Linked DNA regions of Homo sapiens: regions 1, 3, 4, 5 and 6 are each linked to region 2. Evidence: fine-mapped expression QTL. A gene starts in region 2. Each other region holds a variant in brackets. All regions are shown on one strand. Distances are from middle to middle.

Evidence for each region. PIP is the estimated chance that this variant, and not a neighbour inherited with it, causes the effect.
Region 1: its variant is fine-mapped to the expression of SLFN12 in follicular helper T cells (Schmiedel 2018, PIP 0.95).
Region 3: its variant is fine-mapped to the expression of SLFN12 in whole blood (INTERVAL, PIP above 0.99).
Region 4: its variant is fine-mapped to the expression of SLFN12 in aorta (GTEx, PIP 0.95).
Region 5: its variant is fine-mapped to the expression of SLFN12 in whole blood (INTERVAL, PIP above 0.99).
Region 6: its variant is fine-mapped to the expression of SLFN12 in whole blood (INTERVAL, PIP 0.99).

What each region holds. Positions count from the first base shown.
Region 1 is chr17:34,612,341-34,617,620 of GRCh38, forward strand. All of the region lies in intron 1 of TMEM132E (transmembrane protein 132E), which reads left to right. Among named protein-coding and RNA genes, the nearest start is that of TMEM132E, 35 kb to the left of the region's middle. RefSeq lists enhancers at 375-953, 3,614-4,214. The variant A/ATGTGTGTGTG (reference allele first, on the strand shown) is at 3,177.
Region 2 is chr17:35,429,868-35,435,147 of GRCh38, forward strand. It overlaps SLFN12 (schlafen family member 12), which reads right to left and starts at 2,633. Exons shown (of 4, transcript NM_018042.5): 1 at 2,321-2,633. SLFN13 (schlafen family member 13) reads right to left here. Exons shown (of 6, transcript NM_144682.6): 6 at 5,229-5,280. RefSeq lists enhancers at 2,543-3,268, 2,637-3,836, 2,765-2,984, 3,805-4,044, 3,995-4,720.
Region 3 is chr17:35,374,631-35,379,910 of GRCh38, forward strand. LOC105371933 (a long non-coding RNA gene) reads left to right here. Exons shown (of 2, transcript NR_171638.1): 2 at 1-225. It also overlaps the pseudogene UFM1P2. Among named protein-coding and RNA genes, the nearest start is that of SLFN11, 3.6 kb to the left of the region's middle. The variant G/T (reference allele first, on the strand shown) is at 3,287.
Region 4 is chr17:35,465,298-35,470,577 of GRCh38, forward strand. SLFN12L (schlafen family member 12 like) reads right to left here. Exons shown (of 5, transcript NM_001363830.2): 5 at 1-5,280. Among named protein-coding and RNA genes, the nearest start is that of SLFN13, 19 kb to the left of the region's middle. The variant A/G (reference allele first, on the strand shown) is at 2,232.
Region 5 is chr17:35,382,150-35,387,429 of GRCh38, forward strand. No RefSeq gene overlaps it. Among named protein-coding and RNA genes, the nearest start is that of SLFN11, 11 kb to the left of the region's middle. The variant ATTT/A (reference allele first, on the strand shown) is at 2,080.
Region 6 is chr17:35,338,287-35,343,566 of GRCh38, forward strand. No RefSeq gene overlaps it. Among named protein-coding and RNA genes, the nearest start is that of SLFN11, 33 kb to the right of the region's middle. The variant T/C (reference allele first, on the strand shown) is at 2,257.

The DNA of each region.
Region 1 (5,280 bases), 820 kb before region 2:
GCAGGTGCCCAGAGGGGCTTGGAATGTGCTCTGCTGTTGCTTCACTCTCCTCCCCAACTGGAAATGCCCTGGCTTTTCCAGCAGGGGCCTTGGCTTATGGGACCCAACTGTGGAGCCCCGGCAGAGCCCCCACTCAGAGGTAGGAGTGTGAGTTCCAAAGCCCACTCTCTGCCACTAAACCTCTGGGATCTTGAACAAATATCTTCCCTTTTCTAGGCCTCAGTTAAAACAGGCATCAGAATATGGTCCAAGTCTCAGGAATGTCGTCAAAACATCAGAGATCATTCACACACAAGTGCCTGGCAGAGCAGTGAGGAAGTCCCACCTTCATGACCAAGCCCACCTCCAGCTCAGGTCTGGGATCATAGCTCAGGGGATCTCTACACCTGGTCCCCAACTTCCAGGCTCACTGCTCCCATGAAGTGAGCCCAGGACCAGGGAAATCAGGAGGGCCGGTGGGGCCTAACCTCAGCTGTGTGTTTTGGGGAAGCCTTTCAGCCTCTCTCAGCTTTGGTTCCGTCACTGGGGGGGGCAGTGGGGTGGGAAAGATGCAGTTTTCCCAGAGTTATTGTGAGGTTGGGGTGACACTCAGCCAGTACCTAGCACTCCAGAGGCAGCCTCTAAATGTTAGGGGGACCCCATGTCCCCCACCCTGCACCTCTAAGGCTGCTGTTTGTTGCAGCTCTTACCTTGCCCAGGGCTGAATGGGCTGGAGGGGTGAGGTGGTTCCCCAGCTTCCCCCAGAGCCTCCCCTCCCAAAGCCCAGCTCCAAAACCTTCTCCACCCACTGCAGGCCTATGGTGGCACTCACACTCTCTCTCTCTCTCTCTCTCTACACACACACACACACACACACCCACACACACACACACGCGCGCGCGCGCGCGTTCTTACATTCTTTTTCCGTTGTTTGCGGCTAATTGTTTATTAGGAGATGCAGGCGGCTGTGCCAGTGGGAAGGCTCAGCTTGCTCTGCTATAATTAGGATAATGCACATTAGTCATTTAGTGTAACTCTGAGAGCAGCCCCCTCCCCCGCACTCCCCTCCCCCGCTGCTCCTGCTTAGCTGGCTGGGTTCCCAGGCCAGGGCTGTGCAGGTTTGTTCAGGTTCCCTCCTGGGCCTTCTCGGTTGGCCCTGGCTCTACCTCACTACTAGTCCGTCCAGCAGTCCCTAAGCCCCCCACTGCCTCCCCTGACTCCAGGATAGGGTTTTCTCTATTTTCTCTCTCCAGGCTTATCTCCTATTTCCTTCCTCTCTGTCCCCTCTTTCTCCGCCTCCCCCTATCTCTTTCCTTTGAACCCTAGCTTTCTCTCCCTCTCCCCTGTTCTCAGCCCTTCTCCCTAGCTTCTGCACCCTTGCCTTATTGCGGGGGTCTCTCTCCCTCCCCCAGCCCTCCATGGGTAGGTAGCCCAGCAGAGCAGGTCAAGCCTACACTCCAGGCCCTGGGGGGTTGGTGGCAGTTCTCCTCTCTGGCGTGACTGTAGGAGGTAGTCCAGACCCTCTCCCTGGAGCCTGATCCTCAGGAGGTTGTCCTTGCTGCTGCCTTCCCTGACACTCCCCGCCCCCAAACACAACCCACTGTTTTTGGCTGAGGACTAGGCTGGCAAAGGTAGGCCATTGTCTCCAAAAGGCCCTTCCCACAAGCACACCAGTGTGGCCTCCTTGCCTTGTTCCCCCCTTCCCTCGTGGTCATCCTGAGATCCAAGAAATTGGGCCCCACAGGAGGCTAGGGTGCTGGGGGGTGAAGGTGAGGGCTCTCATCATGCTGGCTGGAGCAGGTAGCCCTCTGTTTCATGTGGCCTGGATTGGGCACCAGGCAGCCGGGTGGTAGGGAGTATCTTTTCCACTAGGAAAGAGAGGCTCTTCAACAGTGTCTTTTTGTCTCTAGCTGCACAGCCGCTGGCCAACTCCAGACCTGCTGACAAATAAACCTCCTGACCCCTATTCCTACATCCCTGAGACCCCCACGCAGCCCTTTCCATCACAAAAGGGACCTCACATCAAAGCCCATTACAGCTAGGCAGACTGAGCTCTAGGGCCAAGGGTTTGCCCTGCAGGTCGCTGCTGGGGTAAGGGTGAGGGTGGGGTCCCTCCAGTGTTTCAGAAATAAAAGAGCTGTTCCCAGGGGTAAGCGATGCTTGATTGGAAGTACAAAGCCTTTCTTGTCTTCATAAGCCTGTTGATGTCTCTGGTCCTGATCCTGAAATCACAGATGCAGACAGACTAACAGACACAGGCTTACAACTTGCAGGGCAGGCTCACAGAGCAGGTACCACAGAGGGCCTGGGGTCACTGTGCACTTGGAAGGGCCAGAGCTTCTGTCCCCTACATCTGATATCTCTCCTCTGCCTGGACTCTCCATGCAACAACTGGGCCTCCAAACTCCAAGCCCCTCTTGCCTTGGGACCCCTCCAGCCCAGGGACACCAGCCTGAGTTGTACATATTGTAGTCCCTGCCCCTAGAGGTCCACATCACCCTATCCTGAACTACTCCTTCTCACCCTCCTTCTCTATCATGTGCCCCGAGGCTCTGTCCCTCAGTGCCATGTGCAGCTTACAGGATCCCATGGGAGCAGAGTCTAGAGGGGAAGGGAGGGACCATGGCCCAGCTGATCTCCCAGGACCAGGGAACCTTTCCTTGGCCTCCTCTTGGGATTGCTTCCCCATAGGTGGCAAGGCTCCAGGGGCCAGAGGAAGGTACCCCTGAGACTAGCAGGGAACTGGGAAACAAGAGCCCTGGTTTTCAGTAAGTCTCTCATACCACCTTGCTGTATGCTTTCAGCAAGTCTTCCCTCCCTGGGTTTCCCCAGGAGCAGGACTAGGAGGCCAGTTCAGGGGCTGTCCTGGTGGCAGCTTCTTGGGGTCTCATGGCCACCTGTCCTTCTAGTACCCTCGTCCTCCTTCAGGCTTTCAGGAAGCAGACCTAGCCCCCAAGTTAGCTGAGCTTGATTCATTCTTTCATTCACCAATCTGTAGTTTAGTACCCCCCTCCCCGATTCCTCTGCCTAGGTCTCTGTGATTTCCTTCCTTCCTTACTCTCAAAGATGAGGAAGTCACACTGAGCAGCAGGCTTGGTCTGGTTTTAGGCAGAGGGAGCAAAAGGAGTGGCCAGTTTAGGATAGATGTCCCAGGATGGGGTACAGCAAGGGTGCCTGCAAGGGGAAGACTGGCACAG[A/ATGTGTGTGTG]TGTGTGTGTGTGTGTGTGTGTGTGTGTGTGTGTGTTAGCACAACCACCTCCCAGGGCCATCCCAGTCATTCCTTCACTCACTCATTCACTCGACAATCCTCTGTTCCACACAGACCATGTGTAAGACTCTGTGCTAGGTGCCAGGGATTAAAAAAAAACAGCAGGGTCTCCACCCTTAGCGGCAGGCAAGTTGAGCCCCAGTCAGAGCACAAGAGGATTCGCATTGGGTTCACATATAGGAGAGAGGGGAGTCGGTCGCTGGGTCTTGGAGGATCTCTGCCTCCTGACTCAGGAGGCCGTGTGGGGGATCCATTTAATGACGATGATAATAACACTCAGAGAACAGCTAACATTTAAAGAGGGCTGCCTGTGTGCCAGGCACCGCTGAAACATTTCACAGGTAATCTTATAACATAGGCATTTTGTTAGCAAAGCAAGTCAGTGAAAAAGGGGCTATTCTCACTCCGTTGTACAGTTTAGGAAACTGAGGTGGGGGATGTGAAGCCACTTGCCCATGATCACACAGCTAAGAAATGACAGAGCCAGCCTGACCCAAACCTTTGTGACCCTTTTTTCTCATCTGTAAGGTGTACGGGAGGGACCCTGATATCCCTTCAGCTAAGAGATGGGGAGTTCCCAGGCAGATGGCAGGAAACCAGAGCTGCTGGGAGTCAGCAGGCAGGAGGTCTCCTGGGAGGGGATTCAGGGCAAAGTGGAGGAGGGGCGCCCCTCCTGCTGGCCCCTCCCCACAGCTGACTTTTATTCCAACATTGGGTTCCAGCCAAGCATGGGGGTGGGGTGGATAACAGTACTGGGAAGCTGCTTCTCCAGGATTTACAACCTGCCAGGGAGTAGGCAAGAGCCATCTGGGGGCTGCTAGCTGCTGGTGGCTTCAGTGGCTCTTCCTCCCACCCACCCACTGAGGGAGTGGCCACAGCATGGAGTCAGTGATTATGTATTCCCCGGCTACATGTCCTTGCTCTGGGGCTCCTGCTGCTCCTAGCGCAGCCCAGGCTGCAGTCACCCAGAGGCACTCAGTGTTGGGAATACGGTGGAGAGAGGAAAGTGGAGCCTCCAGGTTGATGAGGGAGACACTAGCCTGTGCCAGAGGAGAACCCAGGCTGGTCCTAGAGATGGGGTCTGCAGCTTCGTGGTGGGGAAGGTTTGAGCTGCTTTGGAGGAGGGAGGAGCTACAGGGCTGGGGATGGGGTGGACATCTCCCTCAGACCCCAGACCTCAGGGAGGCACTCATCCCTCTGTCTCTGGACTGGACCCCTCTTCTCCCCTCTGGCCCAATGTGGTTTACTGCAGCTCCAGCCTGGGGTGGGGACATGCCTGTGGGGACCAGCTTAGGTGGTATCTTTGTGCAATTTAGAAAGATACAAAAGCAGCCCCTCACTAGGCACCGGGCTTGGCGAGCAGAGCCGGGGCTGGGTTTTAACCTCTGTTTGCTCCTTGAGCTGTGCATCTTTGTCCAAGACACCAACTGTTCAATAGTATTATACATAGAGGCCCTGCCCTGGTGCTTAGGGAAGGCAGTGTTCAGGGCCCACCGGGCCCAAGTCATCACCTCTCCTTCGGCCAGCTGACTGCTACCTAGTCCAGAACTCCCTGCAGACATAACCGCTACCTACTTCTAGGTCACTCATGTGGCATGCAGAGCAGGGACTATCCTCTTCTCCCAAAGAAAGAAGCTGAGGCCCAGAGAAAGGAAAGAAACTGCCCAAGGTTACGCAGCAGATCAGTGACAGAGCTTTCTGGGCCAAATTCTAGGGCCCCTCAACAGCTGGCACTCCTTCCAGCCTCGGTGCCTCTTTGGAGGCCTTTGGGACACTGCTCCATGTGCCTGTCATCTCTGTACTTGTCTTATTTAACTTAACCAACCTTGGCAGAAGACCTGCGTGAGCCAGACAATGCACCAAGTGCAGGAGAAAAACAGGTGAGCACTTCCCTCCTCTCAGAACTAAATAACCAATAAATGTTGAATGAATGAATGAATGAATGAATGAACGAATGAACACTGAGCACCAACTTTGTACCAGAAATTACACCAAGCGAGCAATTTGCTTATTTAATCACAACTCTGTGAAATAGGTTCTAAGC
Region 2 (5,280 bases):
GCATTTCACCTAAAGAACCTATTCCCCAACTCCCTGCATGTTCAGGACTCCAGGAGGATGGATAACCCTGGGAGGTCTGGACACCCACCAAGCCTGGCCTGACCATAGAGCACTCTGCCCTCCCTGCCTCTCTAGCTCTGCTTGAACACTGCAGATCCCTGGCTCACTGGCCCCACAGCTCTTTAAATTTTCTGGTAATGCTTTAAATTTTCTGGGCTGCTCCCCAGCCCATGCAGGAGCAAAAGTTCCACCCGACCTATAGCTTCCAAGTCCACCATTCTGAAGTCCTCAACAGCCTGCAGTTTATTAGAAGTTGCTACAGAGACAGGAAAGTGTTACCGGTGGAGGGTGTCCTGCTCACTGAAACATTCTGTTTGCAGGAGAAAAACAAAAACTTGGTCTGTTCTAGGATCTATGTGTTTCCTTAAAGTCTTAGAATGAGCAACTCCATTTTGGTTTGGTTTGGTCTGTTGGGGCCATGAGCTCAGTCCAAAACACTGGCCTTTCACAATTTTGTTTTTTAAAATTCCCCCTTTTTGTTCAGGTTCTCACTTAGGTGAGAATGTAACCAAAACGTAAGGCCTTAGCGCCGCTCTCAGTTACCATCATTTTGGGTTTCCAGTCTCAGCACACCATCCATAGGTTACAGTGTCCTCATGGTCGCATATTTGTTTCACTTCTCATCATTCCAGTTGAAGAGAGACCATTTGACATTCTAGAGATGGCTGCATGCAAACATCGAAAACCTTTGAGAGAATACAGTGCACCAGGGAGCCTATTATTATGATGACTATTGGGAGGATAATACCAAGAGTTTGGAGGATGCTCCTTGCCCAGGGTTCCCATAAACCAAACCAGTTAAAATTAAATAGATCAAATAATGAACTAAATAAAGAATCTACCAACTTAAGTAAACAATCTCCTCATTAATCCCCTACAACTGAATCTCTTAATCTTCATTTAATGTATTTCTCCATAGACTCTAAGTGCCAGCAGCTGCACAGATACTTCTCTGTTCAGCCAATTCTATCATAACTTTCACAAAAGAATTTAAAGTCTGTTGTGTAACTATGGCCTTTACAGTAGATGTTCTGAGAACATCTATCCTATGGGTTCTAGGTTGTGAAGGGGTTGATTGTTCTCAGTGAACCATAAAAAGCTTTCTTTACCTGGTGAAAATACACTGTAGCATAATCATGGGAAAAGCTTTTATACAACAAGAAAACATGCATTGAAAGTGACATTGAATAAAATCCCTTTGTAAATGTTTAAATGGCCCATCGGGTAGCCAAATGTACCTGAAGCTTTGATTGTCTTCCCAGGAATATGGATTTGAGAAACCAAACATTGGTTATAAACAACTTTAGCAATTTATAAGTCAGCGGTTTCCATGGCAGTTTGATTTTTAAAGGTCAAACTTCCTCGCACTTCAAAGAACGCTGAGGCCAAACAGCACCAAAGGAGAACATCACACTTTAACCCGACACAACCCTGCTTAGAACAGCAGCACAAGAGCCTGCATACATGCAACTCCATCCCACTTTACCATTCAACAGCAAACTCCAGATTCCAAACAATATTGAGGCCAAACACTACTGCAACCGGAAGAGAAAATTCTAAGGAGGGCTTAGTACTAGGCCTAAGAACCTCTACCAAAGGAACCCCCTTGGAGAGGCTGAGGTCCAAAGGATCCTCCAGAGCATCCCCCTTTAGGGTCCAATCTTAGAGCGTCAGACGTCTCTGACCTTAGGTGGTCACCAGTGCCACTTTACATGTTTTCCCTCCAGAGGGGATGGCCTACTGTGAGCTTTCCTTTTGTCTCTGGATGAAGGCCTTGACTTCTAGCATCCTTATAATTTGATAAGGCCATGCTTTCCCATGGTTCCCATTCCACTAGAGTGATAGTCATGAACTTTAATGATATGAAATGGAGGCTAGGTGGGTTTCTTTTAACCTTAGCCAGTAGAGTAGGGGAAGGGAAGAATTTAACATAAGGAAAGAAGGTTTAAGTCACCTGAAACACGTGTGAGTTCGCCCTGGAGAAGCTGCGTCACACATAGGGATCAGGGACCACAACCAGAAAAGACAGAAAAGAGCCCTTCCCGCTTCTGGGCAGGGCAACTATCCCCATTCACTCCTTGGCCTTCAAGGCAGCACTGGAGAGTAGCCCCCGGCCAGAAACCTGCAGTCGCCTCCGTGTCTAGGCGCTACCCACCAAGGATCCCACGTTGGAAAGGAAAAGAGAAAGAGAGAGATTTACCTGTATGGAGCAGAAAGGAAAAGGGAAAGGAGAAAAATAAATCCCAGACTTTGGGCTTACCTCCTGGTTGGCTTGCCAAAATATGTTACCAGTGAAGAGTGTCCAGGTTCTTGGCGTGTTGAACAAAGAACTGGACAAACACACAAACAAAGCAAGGAAAGAATGAAGCAACAAAAGCAGAGATTTATTGAAAACGAAAGTGCACTCCACAGGGTGGGAGCAGGCCCGAGGATAGCGGCTCAAGAGCCCGGTTTCAGAATTTTCTGGGGTTTAAGTACCCTCTAAAGTTTTCCCACTGGTTACTTGGTGTGCACACAATGTAAATGAAATAGGAGCCCGAGATCAGTCTGAATGGTTGCAGAAAGCGATCAATGGGAGGCTGAAGTGAAGTTACAAAGTTATGCCCTATGAAAACATCTGATTGGACGCAGAAAGCGAAGTTACAAAGTTACATTCCTATGCACATGAAGACTTGGCCCTGGAGACCAGTCTGATTGGTTGCGGGAGGGGACCAATCAGAGGTATTTTCAGTTTTTCATCTGCCATGTAGAAAAGGAGGGGCTACAAAGGAAGTTTGTGGAAAGTTGGGATTTTCCTCCAGACCCTTATTCTCCTGCTTCAGAAGGGAGAGAAAGCAGACCGGGATGGGGGTGCGGGGATCTTCCCGGGAGTGGTGGGGTTGTGTTACCAGTGCCCCACCTCCTCCCGAGCCAGCAGACTCCCCAGAAATGAAAAACTAAGGCTGGAAGGTTTAGCGATGGAGCAGGACCAACTTACCAGCTCGCGGTGCTCCCTAGAAGCTGGATTCTTCGCAGGTGCGAGCACACCCCAGATGCCAGCGTGGACCCTTGAGCAACTGGAAGTTAAAAACCCACGAAAACAGCTCTGAGTGATCTCTAGGGAGCTCTCGTTTCTTTTTCACCCATGTGTATTTTTTAAGACAAAAAGAAAAAAGGTAATTTAAAGAAAACAAAGAACAAAGGAACTTGGCGAGGCCCAGGCTACAGTCCGCGGGCTCACTCTCCACAGAGTAAAAAGAACGCGAATCCTTTTCTGTTTTCCGGCCCTCCCCATCCTGGGCTGCGGCTCCACACTTCCCCAGCGTGGCCTGCATTTCTATTGGGCAGCTGGCGCTCCGGAAGTGTCCGCACTCTTTATTATCGACTCTGCGCCTTTGGGCAATTGTCACTATTTTGGTTCATCAAAATTGAAGAAATACCAGGCATTCTTACCATGCCCCTAAAGGGGTGACTCAACCTTTCCAGCTGTACTCGCATTCCCAGAGCAGCACTGCTGCCCCCTTGCTTAAAAGCACGGTTGCCCCCAGGAACCAGGCCAGGGCAGCTGTGGATGGACAGGAGAGGACAAAGGTGCAAGGAGCGGATTGCTCCAGGACAGACAGATTCAAATACCTACCCCTGGCAGTGTAGGGAGCATCTTGGGGCCATTTGGGAGATTCCTTTATTGGGATGCTCCAAAGGCTAGTCTGGCCGGATACAGTCCTCCTGCCACTTTGCTTTCCTTTAGCCCCCTTATTATGATAATTATGGTAATACATGTTTTTCCTGCTAACTTGTCTAAGAATTGGTGTCTCAGTACATAGCTTTTGAAATGCACACAGGCCACGATGACTCATCACAGGGGAATGTGCAAGTCTGAGTTGCTCCTTCTCCGCAAGCTCCACCTACCCCACTCTGGACTGCATTAACTGCCTACTGCCTATTCTAAAATCTTAAGGTACCTAGGAAGAGTACCTATTCACATTAAATAACGTATATATTGAAAGCACATAGCTGCGCTTTTCTTCTTCTCATCTGATCCAGACGCCAGCTCTATGGATACAGTCTCACCGAAGTTAAAAAACTATTCTTCAGTCATTGGCTTAGAAAATGCTAGTGCCGGCTGGGAGCAGTGGCTCATGCCCATAATTCCAGGACTTTGGGAGGCCGAGGTGGGTGGATCACCTGAAGTCAAGAGTTCGAGACCAGCCCAGCCAACGTAGTGAAACCCCCGTCTCCACTAAAAATACAAAAAAAATTAGCCGGGCGTGGTGGCAGACCCCTGTAATCCCAGCTACTAGGGAGGCAGAGGCAGGAGAATCAGTTGAACCTGGGAAGCGGAGGTTGCAGTGTGCTGAGATCATGCCACTGCACTGCAGCCTGGGCAACAAGAGCAAAACTCTGTCTCGGGGAAAAAAAAGGAAAGAAGAAAGAAAGAAAGAAAGAGAGAGAGAGAGAAAGGAAGGAAGGAAGGAAGGAAGGAAGGAAGGAAGGAAGGAAGGGAAAGAAAGAAAGAAAGAAAGAAAGAAAGAGGAAGGAAGGAAGGAAAGGAAGGAAGGAAGGAAGGAAGGAAGGAAGGGAGAGAAGAGAGAAAGGAAGGGAGGGAGGGAGGGAAAGAAAAAAAGAAAGAAGAGAGAGAGAGAGAAAGAAAAAGAAAGAAAGAAAGAGAAAGAAACAAAGAAAAAAAGCTAGCGCAGGCCGGGTGCGGTGGCTCACGTCTATAATCCCAGCACTTTGGGAGGCCGAAGTGGGTGGATTGCCTGAGCTCAGGAGTTGGAGACCAGCCAGGGCAATATGGTGAGAGGGCATAGTCGTGCGCGCCTTGGTAGTCCCAACTACTGTGGTGGACTGGGGAGGGTGTGGGGGCGCTGAGGCATGAGAATCGCTTGGATGGAGGCAGAGGTTGCAGTGAGCCAAGATCACACGGCTGCACTCCATCCTGAAAGACAGAGCAAGGGATTCTATCTCAAAAAAAGAAAAAGAAAAAAAAGAAAAGAAAAGAAAAAGAAAATGCTAGTGCAGGGATTTTCCCAGAGCACCAGGATGGCTTCCAAGGCAGAAACAAAAGACATTAAGAAGTTGTTCCCATGGGAATGTGTGTGGCAGGCATGACATATCAGATCAACTTGGAATAGAAAATGCATATCCCAAAAGGCCCCTCAAAAGTGAGCAGAGTAAAAACATTCACAGAACTTTTAAATTATGTTTTTATTAACTATTGAGTAGAAACAATATTTATAG
Region 3 (5,280 bases), 55 kb before region 2:
TAATGCCGCACTGATTAATACAGGCTCCAGTGAAAGCGAAAGTAAGAAAATAAAACGGATTTCATTATACATATACAATGTGTGTATGGATACATGTACATACATATTACACTTATGTGTATGTTACGCACGTTTGTTAAAATGAGGTCATAATGTTCATGCTGTTTCATAACCCACTTTCTTTCAATGACCACCTTTTCATTTCAGTAAATCTTCGTATTCTCATGTTGCAGCTTCTCCATTTTTCTTTAACATGTTTACAGAGAGTCTGTGCAAACCTGTACCAAATCCAGAACCATGCATCTATAACGTGCTAAAAGATTGTCAACCTAGAATCCTATAACAACCACAAAAAAGGCCTACCTAAATGGAGGCAAAGTAATGACTTCAGACAAAAAAAAAAAAAAAGGAAATCTGAAAATCTGAGGGAATTTGTCACCAGCCGATCTTTCTTATGAAAAAATATTAAAGGAAGTTCTTTAGCTGGAAGGAAAATGATACCTGAATGAAACTCAGATCTACAAAAAAGAATGAAGAGCACAGAAGATAGTAAATATGCAGATAAATATAAAAAATCTCTTTTTTACTGTTAAAATTATTCTTTTTTTACAATATAACAAAATGTATTTTCATTGGATATTAATTATGAACCCACAATGCATGTAAACTAAATACAATACTTCAAATCATTCTGCACAAAGAAATTACAGATCACATTTATTTAATAACAAAATGTCTAATTGTTTAATAAAATGTTTTTAGGAACTTACAATATAATTTTCAAAAACAAAGAATAAAAATATTAAATATATCACTTTATGGCAGAGGACAACATAAATTTATTTCTGCAACACAGCAGGCAAACTTTTGTGCTAGAAACAGTGGAGAAAAAATTTAAAGCAAAAAGTCAGGAAATGGATGTTCACAAATTTCTGGTTAACTGAGGCTCAATAGTTATTGTAAGAAACGGGCGTTTGAACATCAGATTTTAAAATAAAATATTTTAAATATTTTTATTTTATAATATTTTAAAGATTTTATTTATAAGATTTTAAAATTTTAAAATATTTTTATTTTATAAAAATAAAAACTTCCTCAAACACCAGAGTTTTTCACCTCAGCAAATGTCTTTTCCTTTGATAATTCATAATCCTGCTGTTCATTTGTCACATATATGAATATCTGGTAACTTCATAAACAACTACCAATGGCACACTTCAAATGCTGAGTCTGTTGAATTTTCTTATATCTTTTTCCCCAATGAACCTAGAGCCTATAACAGAGAAGATACTGAAACATGCTAAGATAATAATTGGTCTTAGAGAGACTTCACAGCAAGTATTTAATGAAAGCCACTACATTTCCAGCTCTAAAAAGAGCCAGACAGACACAATCCCTGCTTCCAGAGTTCACCGTTCAGACAGAATACAGCAGGGCAAGCACTGATTCTGAATCATTATGAGCTTTGATTTCATCTTTCAAGATTTACATAGATACTGATTTCTTCTGGAAGGGCACATAAAATCTTCCCTTACACACATCATTCTTTGGATTCTCATAAGGGGTATTTTGAAGTCTGTATGTTGACAAGGCCAGTAGATACTTAGTTTTCTCTAATTGCCTTCTACTACTTAAGACTATGTCAAGTATTTTGTTTTCCCTTTCAGTTCTCCCCAACCTCTACCTTCTGCAGTGTTGTCTATCCAGTTGGCTTTTCTGTAACACTTTGCTACACTTTTCTGTTCCCCTTCACTGTTTTCCTCCGTTGCTTTCCTCCTTAACAGAAGCCTGGTCATCTAGGTTTCCCCATCTTTCCTTTCCTGGCTTCTTATTCACATGAGTGACTAATCTTAGCACTTCCTTAAAAGTTGGATCTTCAATAAATATAACTTGTCAGCACTTTCAATCTGCATCTCCTTGAGCTTTTTTTTTTTTTTGATCATCAGATCTTCTGTGCAATAATATTCTCTTCCTGAATGCTATTTAGAAATATTATCCTCAAAACACCAATGGTTTCTTGAAGATACTTGTTTTAAAAGTTGTATCAAAAGAGATTGATAAAGGAATCTATAACTCAGCAAAGGATGCTTCTACTGTATTGTGAATTCCCACCATTACAAATATTGGATTCTGCAAGTCCAACATTAAAACCTGGTATGAGACATCAATTTATACACATAAGAGTTACATTATTATTTTAATTTTTTTGTGGATACTAAACTGAAATTTATATAATACATGAGGTTTTAATCTTAGAAAAAGTAAATGATAAAAATTTAATATAGTTAATTGTTCACTGATATGTCTATTGACTTCATCATAACCTATATATTTAATTAAAAATCAAACTATGAGTCTGCAAATCAGATGCTATCAAGCAAATTGCCATCCAGGATCCGTAATTCTTTGTATATTTTTAAGTCAGATGAATATATAAGATTCAGTAAATTTTAATGTTCCAAATTGTTCTCAAAAAAAAAATTATCAGAACCTTGCAGTTAACACAGTTGGCTAATTCATTTCCCCCCAATGAACTACCTATTTGTGTTGTGAGGTAGCAAAGACTATGATCTTCTGTGACAGTAGTAGCCTTAATTCTTATGCATTCCCTCTTCATATGAAGAGTATGAACAACAAAAAGGGACAGATGAGTCACCTTTCATTATTCATTGACTCTTAGTGTTTTCATAGTATGTTAAATGCCTGATTTCAATTTTACAACAACAAAAAATACCAATATTTATTCTGAAAGGCAATCGTATGTTCCAAGTAGCAGATATTAACAACTTCCAACATGATCTCTAGGAATAATCCGCAGTTCTGAACCTTGTTTTAGAAAAACATTTCCAGCAGTCTGTGCAAGATTTATTCCTATTCCATCATTGGTAATAACTGCACTTGTTGCAGCAGGAGCTTTAAATTCTTCGGCTGCAAACTTTAAGACTGCTGTGAAAGGTGTACTTTCAGGAAAGTACAAAGTACACTGAGTACTTTGTATGGCAGCTGCGTGTCCGATGTCAGCATGATCTTAAAGGAAACCTTCGACATGGTGGTACCAGGATGAATCTAGAACACACGCCAACTCTGCGGGGTAGCACGACTTCCTCCACTGTGCTGAAAATTATTCTTAAAATAATTAAGTTTTTAAAGGAATAAAACTATGTATTGTGGTGCTTATAATAGAAATATTTTGTTTTTAGGAATAGAGGAAATGGGTGTGTATTGTTATAAAGCTCTTACATAATTCACAAAGTCATATGCTATGATTAAACTGTGGTAAGTTGAA[G/T]GTGCATATTGTAAGCCCTAGAGCTACCACAGAAGAAATGGGAACAAAAACATATAGATAATAAACCAACAGAGGACTTTTCCTTATGACTCCTATTTTCTTCCTGTTTTTACAAAAATATTATTTTTCCTACCTGTTTTTGCTTTATAGACATGCAGTGGACTTTTTCCCCATAAGTTATTGGGGTACAGGTGGTATTTGGTTACATGAGTAAGTTCGTTAGCGGTGATTTGTGAGATTTTGGTGCACGTATCATCCAGGCAGTATACACTGCAACATATTTGTAGTCTTTTAATCCCTTGTCCCCTTCCCACGCTTTCCCCAGAGTCCCCAAAGTCCACTGCATCATTCTTATGCCTTTGAGTCCTCATAGCTTAGCTCCCACGTATCAGTGAGAATATACAATGTTTGGTTTTCCACTCCTGAGTTACTTCACTTAGAATAATAGTCTCCAATCTCATCCAGGTCACTGCAAATGCTGTTAATTCATTCCTTTTATGGCTGTGTAGTATATATGTATGTATGTGTGTGTATATATATATATATATATATATATATATATATATATATATATATATATATGATGGAATACTACCGTGGTGTATATATACATATATCTCACAGTTCCTTTATCCACTCATTGATTGATGGGCATTTGGGTTGGTATCATGATTTTCCAATTGCGAATTGTGCTGCTACAAACATGCGTGTGCAAGTATCTTTTTCAAATAATGACTTCTTCTCTGGATAGATACCCAGCAGTGAGATTACTGGATCCAATGGTAGTTCTAGTTTTAGTTCTTTAGGGAATCTCCACACTGTTTTCCATAGTGGCTATACTAGTTTACATTCTCACCAGCAGTGGAGAAGTGTTCCCTGTTCACTGCATCCATGCCAACATCTACTGTTTTTTGACTTTTTTGTTATGGCCATTCTTGCAGGAGTAAGGTGGTATCGCATTGTGGTTTTGATTTGCATTCCCTGATAATTATTGATGTTGAGTATTTTTTCATATGTTCATTCACCATTTGTATATCTTTCCTTGTGAATTGTCTATTCATGTCCTTAGCCCACTTTTTGATGGGACTGTTTTTTTTCTTACTGATTTGTTTATGTTCATTGTAGATTCTGAATATTAGTCTTTTGTCAGATTTATAGACTGTGAAGATTTTTTCCCACTCTGTGGGTTGTCTGTTTACTCTGCTGACTGTTCCTTCTGCTGTGCAAAAGCTCTTTAGTTTAATTAGGTCCCAGCTATTTATCTTTGTTTTTGTTACATTTGCTTTTGAGTCCTTGGTCATGAAATCTTTGGCTAAGCCAATGTCTAGAAGGGTTGTTCCAATGTTAACTTCTAGAATTTTTATACTTTCAGGTCTTAGGTTTAAGTTCTTAATCCATCTTGAATTGATTTTTGTATAAGGTGAGAGCTGAGGATCCAGTTTCATTCTCCTGCATTGGACTAGCAAATTATCCCAGCACCATTTGTTGAAAAGGGTGTCCTTTCCCCACTTTATGTTTTTGTTGGCTTTGTCAAAGATCACTTGGCTGTAAGTATTTGGATTTATTTCTGGGTTCTCTATTCTGTTCCATTGGTCTATGTGACTACTTTTATACTAGTACCATGCTGTTTTGGTGACTATAGCCTTACAGTATAGTTTGAAATCAGGTAGTGTGATGCCTCCAGATTTGTTCTTTTTACTTAGTCTTACTTTGGCTATGCAGGTTCTTTTTTTTGGTTCCATATGAATTTTAGAATTGTTTTGTTCTAATTCTGTGAATAATGATGGTGGTATTTTGATGGAAATTGCATTGAATTTGTAGATTGCTTTTGTCAGTATGGTCATTTTTACAATATTGATTCTACCCATCCATGAGCATGGGATGTGTTTCCTTTTGTTTGTGTTGTCTATGATTTCTTTCAGCAGTATTTTATAGTTTTCTTTATGGAGGTCTTTTGACTCCTTGGTTAGGTATATTCCTAAGTATTTTGTTTG
Region 4 (5,280 bases), 35 kb after region 2:
TTGTACCCCATATAATTTTAAAAGGTAGCTAAATAGCTTTTTAAAAATAGCTATGCCTTATTTTATATCTTGATTGAATTGCTCATAGTTGTTGTACTCAGTGCCTTAAAGTATCTCGTATTGAACATAGACTCCATGTCACAATAAATAATAAATTAAAATTAAATTTTTGGCACTCAAAAATTGGCTTGATAAAATAGGATTATATAAATCCCATTAAAATAGTTAATATGGTTCAATGTAAGTTAAAATAGGCCCTTGAAGGATTGAAAGTTGTTACATAAAACCTCATTTATATAACATAAAAGGGATAAAGGAGATAAGTATTCCCTGCTGCTTGTCCGTTTAACAGCCCAGTGTTGCCTGTTCTTAAACCTGGAAAATAATAAGCAGCAGGCACCTCACGGTGGAGGACTACAACATTATTGCTGTGGTCTTGTCGACTAGGGCCTCATAGCCAGTATCTAGTATGATTAACATTATTAACTCTATCCAATCAATAACTGCTAAATACTCTGTTCTTACAGACTTGGCTAATATGTTCAATATGTTCAATTCCGTGCCTATTTCAACAGACTCCACTGTAGTTTGCCTCCATTGCTGAAGAGACACAATATACCTCTTGCAGGCTACACCTCAGTACCTTCACAATTTTGCCATCATGCACACATCTTACAGACAAGATCTTTTTTAATACTTAATTTTTCTAGAGCAGATTCACAGCAAAATTGAGCGGAAAGTACAAAGATTTTCCATATACCCACTGCCCGCACTCATGCATAGCCTCCCCCATTAGCAACATCTCCCATTAGTGTGGTACATTTGTTACAATTGATTAATCTAAATTAATACATCATAATCACTCAAAATCCATTGCGACTTTTACATTAGCGTTCATTCTTCTTGTACATTTTATGGGTTCAGACAAATGTATAATGACATATATCTACTATATAGTATCAAACACAGGATTTTCATGGCCTTAAGAATCCTCTGTGGTTCAACTATTCATTCCTCCCACTCCCTTAATCCTTGGAAACCACCGATCATTTTACTGTCTCCATAATCTTGCCTTTTACAGAATGTCATATAGTTGGAATCATACAGTATATAGCCTTTTCAGATGGCCTTCTTTTTAAAGAGACAGGGACAGACAAGATCTTAAGTGCATGCACCTTCCTCTGGGAGCACAGATATGATATTACATTAATAACCTCCTCCAAGGAGATGTCACTTAATCTACTCATATGGACATAAGAGTCCAACATCTTTTCATCCTTTTTGGGTTTTCATGGCAAAATATTCTTCACTTACAAATTTTACTTAATCTCATTGAGCTGTAACTCACAAATGAACCCACTTTAAATGTGGCAGCCTCAAACAAAAAGGCTCTAAAATCTATCCAAATTAATACCAACAGACAGACCCATTGGTGCCTGCATTGATTCCTTTACTGAAGAGACTTTAACAAGCTCTACTCATGCCTCCTAAAGTCTAGACCACCTGTGATGGCTACGAATTGCCTGAGGGCTCTCAGCCTCATGCTATATGCCATTAAAACCACAAATGACTAGCTCCATACTGGGCTCTCCTGGACATAGAGGCTTTCACAGATTCTGAGTCTGTGACCCTCCATACCTGGCTACCTGTTATGCTTTCAGTCATGGAAACAGCACCCTGCAAGCTCAGCCTCTCAGAGGGCCCAGGTTTGTCTCTAACCTGTCTCAAGGAGGCTACCAAGTCCTGGGCTCTCTAGCATATTCACACGCAGAAGGGAGTGACGTCCCCAGTCCTTGGTCCCTTGCCAGATGCCATAGTGCTGGAGGAGGTCACCTCTCCTCCAGACCCCTTGGTTACCTGGAAAGCTCCTTTGGATTGACTGAGTGAACAGCAATAGAAGTTCACGGACTATATGAATGGCACTGCCAACCACCATACATGATGGAGCTAGGTGGAATATTACCGAATGCTGGATGCCCTGGCCAACAAATGGCCCCATCTCCATATTCCTTTTGAACAATTGAGCCATTGCCTAATGAATTGTCCCTTTCAGATTAAGGAACACTAAGAACCTCTTTCCTCTTAGATACCCAAAATCACGTGTCTATGTATATTAAGGCCACCATATGAGGCCTTACAATTACCAAGGTAATAACCAAGGCACACATTTCACATTGCAAAATACACACTGAATGGGCTCCCGAAACAAACAGGCATTCAATAAAACTTTC[A/G]TGACCCTAATAGGTCCCAAATAGCCAGTTTAACAGAGAGACATAAGAGTCTCCCCAAACAACTTCTTTTAAAGTTCCAGTCCAACAAATGGACCTCTCAATGGGTCTTTATCTTGCCCCAGGCCTTAACCTATTTTTATAGATTTTCAATATCAAACCCCCCCCATCAGGAGGCCACAGCAGGTGTGTATATTCTCTGGGGTCCAATTAATAGTGATTGTCCAATGGGCTAGGCAGCTGCTTATCTGATATGGGACCCGTTTGAGCCTAAACTTCAACCATGAAGCAAGCAAGCAAGCAAGCAAAAACCAAAACTCTGTCAAATGCAGCTGCACACCATTCTGTTTTCTGTTTATCTTTTTTGTTTTGTTTGTTTGTTTTTGCTTTTTGTTTTGGTCTGAGACAAGGTCTCACTCTGTTACCCAGGCTGGAGTGCAGTGGCGTGATCACGATTCACTCCCCACTCTACTTCCTGGGTTCAGACAATCCTCTCACCTCAGCCTCCTGAGAAGCTGCGACCACAGGCACACACTACCACGCCCAGCTAATTTTTTATGTTTTTTGTAGAGACAGGGTTTTACCATGTTGCCCAGGCTGGTCTTGAATGCCTGAGCTCAAGCAATGCACCTGCTTTGGCCTCTCAAAGTGCTGGGATTACAGGCATGAGCTGCCATGCTCAGCCTGCTGATCTTACTGCTGGTATGGGTGCTTTTGTTGTTTTATCATCTGGAGGCACCAACCCTCCATACAAGCCATTGTTTTAATCAATCATGGCAAATGCTAAGACCCACATCAACCTGAGTCTGTATTTACTTAAAAGAAATACTCAAGACCCATATCCTAGATGACATTTTCCTGGATAGGCACTCACTGCTGGAGATTATGCTGCCTCAGATGACATCGATCCAGCTTACCGTCAGAGATGAATTTACCCCTGCACCAGACATGGCGTCACCCTAAACACAAAAACCTTCACCCCAGTGACACCCATGGACTGCCTCTTCTCAGGCACAAACTGCACACCGAACATTTGGCCTTTTTTCCTTTGATATCAGGGATTCTATTGTGTTTCTGAGTGTGCTGTCTGCTTAGCCTATCATCCTGGCATACTCCTTGCTCTCTGCCAAAACATACACCCCGCACTCCTATGCCTGAAGGAAAATTTAATAGTAGTTACCACTACCTACGTCATTCTAAGAATTAATGGAGGGCCAAGCACAGTGACTCATGCCTATAATTCCAGCACTTTGGGAGGCTGAGGCAGGACTGCTTAATCCCAGGAGTTCAAACCAGCCTGGGCAACATGGGGAGACCCCATCTCTACAAAACATATAAAAGTTAGCTGGGCATGGTGGTGTACACCTGTAGTCCCAGCTACTCAAGAGTCTGAGGCAGGAGAATCTCTTGATGTCGGGAGGTCAAGGCTGTAATGAGCTATGACCACACCACTGCACTCCAGCCTCGGTGACAAGGGCAAGACCCTGTGTCTAAAAAGATAACAAAAATTAATGGATAGTATTGCCTTTCTCTGAAGGCTGTTGCCTCCTGAGTCAATCCCTCAACCCACTGGGAAGAGGACCACTAACTCCCCAGTGCCTACCCCTACTACCCCCTCAAGCTTTCCCCCGTGACTTCCTGCCCTGTGTCTCTGACCATGACCACTCCTCCTTGGTTATACACACACGCTAGTCTACACATGCATTATTAATGTATTAGTTCCTATCCCCCAACAACCTGACTGCAGGACCTGTTTTATATAAAATATATATATATAAAATATATATATATTATATATATAAATATATATATAATATATATATATATGTATTTCAAACTTTTAACCCACTTTAAAACTCCACCAAGATAATAGTAAAAACCTCCAAAAATTTCAGATCTACTTTCTTGACTAATGACATGCAAATGAAGAACTTAGTTATGGACCAGCCTACAAGGGCTCTTTATACTTCCACATTGTTCTTCTATCTTACTCTTACAATAAAATATTTTCTAGGCTATTTAGGGCAACTGTACCCCATCCTTTAAATAAGTCCACTATTACCACCCCAGGTTTCTTACGATGATGCCAAATAGGCCCAGGGGCAATGGGTCTTACTGTGTTTTCCTAGGTTCTGTACTTGTCTATTTGGCATCCATTAATCACAGGGCCAAACTAATGGCCAACATTCTTTACATCCCCGCTGTGACCCAGAGCTCATACTCTAAGCTACTCACACATCGAGCCAATATTTTCCCTACCCTACATAAACCCAGGGCCATGTAACAGACAACTGGGGACCGTCCCTAGGCCCCAAAGCCCATCAGAATTATTCAAACTATTGAGTCCTAAGCTGTTCCCCCTGCCCAGCTGGACCTTTCCCACAGAAACCCTAATAATAAAGGTTCCGAATTAGATTTTCCCCTCACTTCTGCTCCTCTTTCCTTAACCAACTGGATGCTTTACCACATGACCCTGCATGACAGAGCAAGTCCCCTTCTCTTGGAACTATAAGTAATAAAGTCTTTTTTCAATGGCGCTAGTCCATCTGTGTTGACACTCAGTCACCTCCATAAATCAAAACTTCAAGAGTACATTTTCATATAATATTTTATCAGGCATCTGAAGGTTTCACCAAAGTTTATATTTTCCTACTGCAAAACTATGTTCCATGTAGATCTGGCCCATCTTGAGGCTATTGTTCCTGCGTTCATCCTCCCATGGTCACATTTCTTGGCCAACAGAACCATAGAAATTGGTCTGCCATGTGTTAACGTTTAGTCCAAATCATTTTTCCACTTTAGCTCTGCTTCAAATGGGGCTGGCCTGGTGATACTGGAGACAATAAATGCGCCTGTAAGTTCCAGATAACAGGCTCTTGTCATTTTCCCAATCTTTCCTCATTGCAATGTTCCACAGCTGTAGGTGTGCCAAGGCCTCTGGGTCCCAGTGTAGCACCTTGAATGCACAGTTCACACAGTGGTGGCTTCAGGGTGCCAGCCAGGAGGAGTTCTGGTGCACTCACTGTTTGATGATGGTGGTCTTCCCCATGCC
Region 5 (5,280 bases), 48 kb before region 2:
TGGATTTTCTCTTCCTTTCTTGGTTAATCTTGCTAATGGCCTATCAATTTTATTTATCTTTTCGAAGAACCAGCTTTTTGTTTTATTTATCGTTTGTATTCTTTTGTTTCAATTTCATTTAGTTCTCCTCTGATCTTGGTTATTTCCTTTCTCCTGCTGGGTTTGGGTTTGGTTTGTTCTAGTTTCTCCAGTTCCTTGAGGTGTGACCTTAAATTGTCTGTGCTCTTTCAGACTTTCCTCTTAGCATCACCTTTGCTGTGTCCCAGAGGTTTTGATAAGTTGTGTCATTATTGTCCTTCAATTCAAAGAATTTTTAAATTTCCATCTTGATTTTGTTTTTGACTCAATGCTCATTCAGGAGCAGGTTATTTAATGTCCATGTATTTGCATGGTTTTGAAGGTTCCTTTTGGAGTTGATTTCCAGCTTCATTCCACTGTGGTCTGAGAGAGTGTTTGGTATGATTTCAATTTTCTTAAATTTATTGAGGCTCGTTTTATGGCCTAACATATGTTCTCTTTTGGAGAAAGTTCCATGCACTGTTGAATAGAATGTATATTCTGTGGTTGTCAGATGAAATGTTCTGTATATATCTGTTAAGTCTATTTGTTCCGGGGTATAGTTTAAATCCATTGTTTCTTTGTGGACTTTCTGTCTTGATGACCTGTCTAGTGCTGTCAGTGGAGTATTGAAGTCCCCCACTATTATTGCGTTGCTGTCTATCTCATTTCTTAGGTCTATTAGTAATTGTTTTATAAATTTGGGAGCTCCAGTGTTAGGTGCATATATATTTAGGATTGTGATATTTTCCTGTTGGACAAGGCCTTTTACCATTATATAATGTCTCTCTTTGTCCCTTTTAACTGCTGTTGCTTTAAAGTTTGTTTTGATACAAGAATAGCTACCCCTGCTCGCTTTTGGTGTCCATTTGCATGAAATGTCTTTTTCTACCCCTTTACTTTAAGTGTATGTGAGTCCTTATGTGTTAGGTGAGTCTCCTGAAGGCAGCAGGTAGTTGATTGGTGAATTCTTATCCATTCTGTGGTTCTGCATCTTTTAAGTGGAGCATTTAGGCCATTTACATTCACTGTTAGTATTGAAATGTGAGGTACCTTTGCAATCATTGTGCTTTGTTGCCTGTGGACTTGTTTTTTGTTTTTCTTTTTAACTTGTATTTTTGTTTTATAGGTCCTCTGTGATTTATGCCTTAAAGAGGTTCTGTTTTGATGTGTTGCCAGGATTTGTTTCAAGATGTAGAGCTCCTTTTAGCAATTCTGGTAGTGGTGGCTTGGTAATGGCGAATTCTCTCAGCATTTGTTTGTCTGAAAATGACTGTATCTTTCCTCCATATATGATGTTTAGTTTTGCTGGGTACAAAATTCTTGTCTGATAATTGTTTGTTTCAGGAGGCTGAAGATAGGGCCTCAACCCCTTCTAGCTTGTAGGGTTTCTGCTGAGAAATCTGCTGTTAATCTGATAGGTTTTCCTTTATAGGTTACCTGGTGCTTCTGTCTTGCAGCTCTTAAAATTCTTCCCCTCATCTTAACTTTAGATAACCTGATGACAATGTGCCTAGGTGAAGATCTTTTCACAATAAATTTCCCATGTTTTCTTTGTGTTTCTTGTGTTTGGATGTCTAGTTCTCTAGCAAGGCTGGGGAAATTTTCTTCAATTATTCCCCGAAATACGTTTCCCAAGCTTTTAGAATTCTCTTCTTCCTCAGGAACACCGATTATTCTTAGGTTTGGTCATTTAACATAATCCCAGACTTCTTGGAGGCTTTTTTTGTATTTTCTTATTCTTTTTTCTTTGTCTTTGTTGGATTGGGTTAATACAAAGACCTTGTCTGTGAGCTCTGAATTTCTTTCATCTACTTGGTCAATTCTATTGCTGAGACTTTTTAGAGCATTCTGCAATTCTAAAAGTGTGTCCAAAGTTTCCTGAATTTTTGATTTTTTTTTCTTTAAGCTATCTATTTCCTTGAATATTTCTCCCTTCACTTCTTTTAGCATTTTTTGGATTTCCTTGCACTGGGATTTTCTCTGGTCCCTCCCTTATTAGCTCAATAACTAACCTCCTGA[ATTT/A]TTTTTTTTTTTTTTTGGGTAAATCGGATTTCTTCTTGGTTTGGATCCATTGCTGGTGAACTAGTGTGATTTTTGGGGAGTATTGAAGAGCCTTGTTTCATCATATTACTGGGGTTGGTTTTCTGGTTCTTTCTCATTTTGGTAGCCTCTGTCAGAGGGAAGGTCTAGGGCTGAAGGCTGTTGTTCAGATTCTTTTGTCCCACAGGGTGATCCCTTGATATAGTACTCTCCCCATTTTCCTAAGGATGTGGCTTCCTAAGAGCTGAGCTGTAGTGATTGTTATCTCTCTTCTGGGTCCAGTCACCCAGCAAGTCTACCCGGCTCTGAGCTGGTACTGTGGTTTGTCTGCACAGAATCCTGTGATGTGAACCATCTATGGGTCTCTCACCAGTGCCTGTTCTGGTGGAGGTGGCAGAGGGTGCAACAGACTCCATGAGGGTCCTGAGCTTTGGTGGTTTAATGCTCTATTTTTGTGGTGGTTGGCCTCCTTCCAGGAGGCTGCACTTTCCAGAAAGCATCAGCTATAGTAGGCCCCAAGTAGGCCCCAGTGTCTGTTCTTCCCCGCTTTGTGTCCATTTGTTCTTATCATTTAGTTCCCACTTATAGGTGAAAACATGCCATATTTGGTTTTTTGCTCCTGCATTAGTTTGCTAAGGATAATGGTCTTCAGTTTCATTCATGATCCTGCAAAGGACATGATCTCATTCTTTTTTATGGCAGCATTGTATTCCATGGTGTACATATATCACATTTTCTTTGTCCAGTCTACCATTGATGAGCATTTAGGTTGATTCCATGTCTTTGCTATTGTGAATAGCGCTTCAAGGAACATACGCATCAGTGTCTTTATGGTAGAAAGATTTATATTCCTTTGGGTATATACTCAGTAATGGGATTGCTGTGTCAAATGGTAGTTCTGTTTTTAGCTCTTTGAGGAATTGCCGCACTGCTTTCCACAATGGCTGAACTAATATACACTCTCACCAAAAGTGTATAAGTGTTCCCATTTCTCCATAACCTCGCCAGCATCTGTTATTTTTTGATTTTTTAATAATAGCCATTCTGACTGGTGTGAGATGGTATCATGTTGTTTTTGCTTTTGTTTTTTTGAGATAGATCTCACTCTGTCACCCAGGCTGGAATGTAATGGCATGATCTTGGCTCACTGCAACCTCTGCCTCCTGAGTTCAAGCAATTCTCCTGTCTCAGCCTCCAGAGTAGCTGGGACTACAGGCGTGCACCACCATGCCCAGCTAATTTTTTGTATTTTTGGTAGAGATGGGGTTTCACTATGTTGGCCAGGCTGGTCTCGAACTCCTGACCTCAAGTGATCCACCCACCTCAGCCTCCCAAAGAGCTGGAATTACAGTGTGAGCCACTGCGCCTGGCCCTCATTGTGGTTTTGATTTGCATTTCTCCAGTGACAAATAATATTGAATTTTTTTCATCTGCTTGATGGCCAAATGTGTCTTCTTTTCAAAAGTTTCTGTTCATGTCCTCTGCCCACTTTTTAATGGGGTTGTTTTTTTCTTGTAAATTTGTTTAAGTTCCTTATAGATGCTAGATATTAGACCTTTGTTAGATGGATAGATTGCAAATATTTTCTTCCATTCTCTATGCTGTCTGTTCACTCTGTTGATAGTTTCTCTCGCTGTGCAGAAACTCTTTGGTTTAATTGGATCCCCTTTGTCAATTTTTGCTTTTGTTGTGATTGCCTTTGGCATCTTCATCAGGAAATCTTTGCCAGTTCCCATGTCCAGAATGGTGTTGCCTAGGTTGTATTCCAGGGTTTATATAGTTTTGGTTTTACATTTAAGTCTTTAATCCTTCTTGAGTTGATTTTTGTATATAGTGTAAGGAAAGGGTCCAGTTTCAATCTTCTATATATGGCTAGCCAGTTATCCGAGGACCATTTATTGAATAGGGAGTCCTTTCCCCATTGCTTATTTTTATCAGCTTTGTGAAATATCTGATGGTTGTAGGTGTATGGCATTATTTCTGGAATCTACTCTGTTCCATTGGTCTGTGTGTCTGTTTTTGTACCAGGTCCATGCTGTTTTGGTTACTGTAGCCCTACAATAGTGTTTGAAGTTGGGTAACGTGATGCCTCCAGCTTTGTTCTTTTTGTTTAGGACTGCTTTGGCCATTTGGGCTCTTTTTTAGTTTGATATGAATTTTAAAGTTTTTTTTTCTAGTTCTGTGAAAAATGTCATTGGTAGTTGGATAGGAATAGCATTGAATCTGTAAATTGCTTTGGGCAGTATGGCCATTTTAATCATACTGATTCTTTCAATTCTTGAGCATGGAATGTTTTTACATTTGTTTGTGTCATCTCTGATTTCTTCAAGCAGTGTTTTGTAATTCTCATTGTAGAGCTCTTTCACCTCCCTGGTTAGGTGTATTCCTAGGTATTTTATTTTTTGGTGGCAATTGTGAATGAGATTTCATTCCTGATGTGCCTCTCATCTTGGCTGTTGTTGGTGTATTGAAATGCTAGTGATTTTTGTGCATTGGTTTTGTATCCTGAAACTTTTCTGAAGTTGTTTATCAGCTAAGAGAGCTTTTAGGCCAAGACTATGGGGTTTTCTAGGCATAGAATTATGTCATCTGCAAACAGGGATAGTTTGACTTCCTGTCTTGCTATTGGGATGCCCTTTCTTTCTTTGCCTGATTGCTCTGGCCAGGACTTCCAATACCATCTTGAAGAAGGGTGGTGAGAGAGGGCTTTCTTGTCTTGTGCAAGTTTTCTAGGAGAATGCTTCCAGCTTTTGCCCATTCAGTATGATATTGGCTGTGAGTTGGTCATAGATTGTTTTATGTCTGATTGTGTGGTGGTCAGTTATAGAGTACATGCCACGTAGCAATGAGAAAAGTGTATATTCTGTTGTTTTGGGGTGGAGAGTTCTGTGGAGGTCTATCAGATCCATTTGGTCCAATATTGAGTTCAGGTCCTGAATATTTTTGTTTATTTTCTGCCTTGATGATCTTCTAATACTGTCAGTGGAATGTTGAAGTCTCCCACTATTATTGTGTGGGAGTCTAAGTCTCTTTGTAGGTCTCTAAGAACTTGCTTTATGAATCTGGATGCTCCTATGTTGGTTGCATATATATTTAGGATGGGTAGGTCTTCTAGTTAAATTGAACCCTTTACCATTATGTAATGCCCTTCTTTTTTATTTTTTTTACCTTTTTTGGCTT
Region 6 (5,280 bases), 92 kb before region 2:
CAAGGCAGATGGATCCCTTGAGTATGGGAGGTTGAGACCAGCCTGGGCAACATGGTGAAACCTCATCTCTAAAAAAAAATTACAAAAAGTATCAGGCATGGTTGTGTATGCCTGTGATCGCAGCTACTCAGGAAGCTGAGGTGGGATGGCTATTGCACAATGGCAATCCAGCCTGGGCGACAGAGTGAGACCCTGTCTCAAAAAAAAAAAAATCACCTCTCATTTGGGAAGGGGAAGAATGGGAGGCACAGAATAGTCCCTGGTCCCTAGAAATTTTGAAATGCTGTTGGGCAGACACTCTGAGGCACTGTTACCCAGGGGTGGGGACTATTCCCTGTGGTTCTGATTCTAGTCAGTGGTTGCCCATGGTGTTTTCCTCCATTTCACTCTAGCCTTACTGAGGTATGATTGACAAATAAAATTGTATATATTCACAGTGTACAACATGATGTTTTGATACATTTATACATTGTGGAATGATTAAACTCAGCTAATTAATGTATCTGTCACCTCACATAGGTATGTTTTGTGATAAGAACAATTGAGTTCTACTCTCTTGGGAATTTTTAAATATACAATACATTGTTATTCCTTGTAGTTGCCATGCTGTACAATAGATCTCCAGAACTTATTCATTTTGTCTAACTGAAACTTTTTACCATTTGACCAACATTTCCCCATGTTCCGACCTCTGCCCACCATCCAGCCCCTGGCATTCTTTCTTTGCTTCTATGAATTCGACTTTTTTAGATTCCACATATAAGTGGAATCATGTAGTAGTTGTCCTTCTGTGGCTGGCTTATTTCACTTAGCATAATGTCCTCCAGGTTCATCCACCTTGTTGCAGATGACAGAATTTTCTTCTTTTCTAAGTCTGAATAGTATTCCCGTGTGTGTGTGTGTGTGTGTGTGTGTGTGTGTCTTACTTTCTTTAATCACACATGCATCAATGGACAGTTTTGGTTAATTCCATATCTTGGCAATTATTAATAATACTACAACAAACATGAGATTGTAGATACTTCATTGATCTACTGATTTCATATCTTTCAGACATATACCCAGAAATAGGATTGCTGCATCATATGATAGCTATGTTTATTTTTAATTTTTTTTAGAAATTAGATTTCACTCTGTTGCCCAGGCTAGAGTGCAGTGGTGGCATCCTAGATCACTGCAGCCTCAACCTCGTGAGCCCAAGTGATCCTCCCGCCTCAGCCTACAGAGCAGCTGGGAACACAGGCTCATGCCACCATGCCCAGGTAATTTTTAAAAATGTTTTGTAGAGATAAGGTCTTGTTGTGTTGCCCAGGCTGGTCTCAGATTCCTGGCTTCAAGTGGTCTCCCTGCCTTAGCTTCCGAAAGTGCTGGGATTACAGGTGTGAATCACTTAGCCTGGCATATTTTTAATTTTTTGAGGAACTGCCATATTGTTTTCTCTAATGGCTGCACTAATTTAAGTTCCCACCAACAGTGTGCAGATACTCCCTTTTCTCCACATCCTTGCCAACACTTATCTTTTGTCTTTTTAGTAATAGCTGCATGAGTATGAGATGAGATGATACCTCTTTGTACTTTTAATTAATATTTCCTTCATTATTAGTAATATTGAACACTTTTTCATATACCTATTGGCCATTGAAATGTCTTCTTTTGAGAAATGTCTACTCAGATACTTTGCTCATTTTTAAATTAAATTATTTGTTTCCTTGCTATTGAATTGTTTGAGTTCTTTTTATATTTTAGATACTAACCCCTTATTAGATGTATGGTTTGCAAATATTTTCTCTCCTTCTGTAGGTTGTCTCCATTCCTTTGATAATTTCCTTTGCTGTGCAAAAGCTTTTTGTTTTATGTCATTCATTTGTCTTTTTTTGCTTTTGTTGCCTGTACTTTTGGGGTCATATTCCAAACATTCATTGCCAAGACCAACATCAATAAATCACCCTTTGGGTTTTCTGCCAGTGGTTTTATAGTTTCAGCTTTTACATGTAAGTCCTTAATCAATTTCGGGTTTATTTTTATGTGGTATGAGATAAGGACCCAATTTCATTCTTCTGCATTGGATATCCAGTTTTCCCAACACTATTTATTGGAAAGAGTATCCTTTCACCATGTATGTTCAAGGTAACTTTCTCAAGGTTGCTTGGCCTATGAACGTATATATTTATCTCTGGGATCTCTATTCTGTTTCATTGGTCTATATGACTCTCTTTATGCCAGTACGATGCTGTTTTGATTACTATAGCTTTGTGC[T/C]ACATTTTGAAATCAGGTAGTGTAAAGTCTCCTGCTTTGTTCTTCTTACTCAAGATTGCTTAGGCTATTTGGGATCTTTTGTGGTTCCATAGAAATTTTAAGACTGTTTTTCTATTTCTGTGGAAAATGTCCTTGGAATTTTGATAGAAATTGTAGTGAACCTGTAGTTCACTTTGGGTAGAATAAACATTTCAACAATATTAATTCTTCCAATCCATGAACATGGGATATCATTTCATTTATTAGTGTCGTCTTCAATTTCTTTCATCAATGTTTTATAATTTTTAATGTGCAGATCTTTCACTCCCTTTGTTCAACTTATTGCTAAGTATTTTTTTTGTAGCTATTGTAAATGGGATTGTTTTCTTGATTTCTTTTCTTTCCTTTTTTTTTTTGTGTTTTTTTTTTTTGTTTTGTTTTTTTGAGACAGAGTCTCATTTTGTTACCCAAGCTGGAGTGCAGTGGCTTGATCTTGACTCACTGCAACTTCCACCTCTTGGGTTCAAGTGATTCTCCCACCTCAACCTCCCGAGTAGGTGGGATTACAGGTGTCCACCACCATGCCCAGCAAATTTTTGTATTTTTAGTACAGACAGCATTTTACCATGTTGGCTAGGCTGGTCTCAAACTCCTGACCTCAAGTGATCCACCCTCCACAGCCTCCCAAAGTGCTGGGATTATAGGTGTGAGCCACCACGCCTGGCTGATTTCTATTTTGCATAGTTGTTATCGGACAGAAACACTGCTGATTTTTGCATTTCTAGTTTTGTACCTTGTAACTTTACCAAATGTGTTAATTAGTTCTAACAGTTCCTGTGGAGTTTTTAGGGTTTTCTTGTAGGGAGACCCCCTGAAACTATTGCTACAGAATAAAAGATGAAATGCTCCTGATTATTATAAATACAAAATTGCATGCAGGATTGTGTAAAGACAATGCAAGGTTGGGCTGCCTGAATGAGCCAACAGCACATGATGTGCTTCCTCCTGCAGAGAGCCTATAAACGGATGTGCAGTCAGGGAGGTTTCACATCACCAATATTCTTATCCCAGAAAAGCAGATGTTCACAGCTCTGGGAATGGAATGCGACCCTTGTGGAGAGCCTATAAATGGACGCATGAGGGGCGGCCATTCATATGTATAAAATAGGGTTTTAAATGCCCTTATCTTGCCATGGCTCTTCTAGGTCTCTTTAGGGTTAAGGCATACTCCCTTCTGAGAATTTGTGGTCTCACCGGTTGTCTAGTTTCACATCCTGTTTCCATCAATTGTTTGCAACCAGCTTTTGCTGCAACTGTTACTGCTGATTAATATCTTGCTAAACATAGGTTATGGATAGACTGTGTTTCTGTTTTAAGGCTCTGTTAAAAATCACTGACACACACACTGTATTGTAAATTCTTATCTCTGTATTCTGCACTTCTGCATACAGATGTTATGTTAAAGAATTACTTCATCCCCATGTGACCATCTCACCTCATAATCAAAGACCCTAAATCCCTCACTAACCTACCCCCACCCTCACTAAACTTAATAATAAATGCTGCTATATCCAGTGCATTCGTGGCATCACAAGACCAGAAGGCGGTGACCCCCCTGGACCCAGCTTTCACTATCTCGCATGTGTCTTTTATTTCTTGACCTGCCGATCCACCTGGGAACAAAGAAAGAGCCCCGTTGGATTGCAGGCTGCTGGTCAGATCCCACAATATTTTCCGTATATAATATCATGACATCTGCAAACACAGATAATTTTATTTTGTCCTTTCCAATTTGGGTGCCTTTTATTTCTTTTTCTTGCCTAATTGCTCTGGCTAAGAATTCAGTATCTCTTGAATAGAACCCATGGTTCCTGATTTCACTCTCAAGAGGGTGTCATTATCTTTTTCCACTTTTTTTTTTTTTTTTTTTTGAGATGGAGTCTCACTCTGTTGCCCTTCTTCCACTTTTAAAGTGGAAAGTTTCCCTTTTCTATTATTTTCTTCAACCACATTTAAAGCAGGAACTGGGGACTGTACCTTCCTTTAGAACTAACCAGCTTTCTCAACCTACTGCTTGCCCAAAGAATGTTGGAGTCCAAGGGTTGTGTTTAGTCTGAAAGCATCACAGTTTTTGCTTTCTGGATTTTAAAAATCTAGGTATGGCTCCTTGGCAATTTAACTTTCTCAAAAACTTCTTGTTGTTTTTCTAAATCTATACGGTCCCAGTTAACTCTGTGTGCTAATACAATTCAGTATTTTTGAGATGTGCTTCTCTCTTTAGATTTAATTATATTACCTTGAATTAGCAGGCTTTCATCAGAAAGCAATGCACTCAAGCTCTTTTCTCTGAGCAATTTTGTCTGAAAGGATTTATTGGCTGACATCTTAGTTGATTCAGAGGTTTCCACCATAGGTTTAATAGCTACTTATTAACTGCCTCTTTGCCAAAGACTGAGTTTGAATTTCTGTCTTTGTTACCCAAAGACATTCTCAGATTTTTTATTAGTTGAAGAAGAGAAATATTTGCAACTTCTTATTCTAAAAGTCCAAAAATGTGTAGACCATTTTCTTCCCTTCCTGCTTGCAAAGAGTTTAGTGCTTTTCCAAGCACATTTTTCCTCCCACCTTTTGTATTACCCTACCTAGTAGCGATCAAACTATATTACTAGCATCTGTTTCCTTACTTCTTCACTCAAATCCACAGGCTCATTTAATACATTATCTTCATTCTAAGTTATTAAAGGTGACTGTTTTGTCCAGTCTTTCACTGCTACAAAACAGGGGTTGACATTTTCCCAGCCTCCAATAATATTTTCTTCATTGCCCATCACTCAGCCCTGGAACCAAAGCCACAATTTAAATTATTTTGTTATGCAGCATCCCACTCTAAGCACCAATTTCTGTACAAATCAGAACTAGCCAGATTTTGCTGTGGTAACAAATTATCCCCAAAGTTTCCATGACTGTTTAAAAATAACAAATGTTAATTTCTTTCTTAAACTATATGTCTGTTGTGGATCCCATTTGGCTCTACTCTTCATTGTT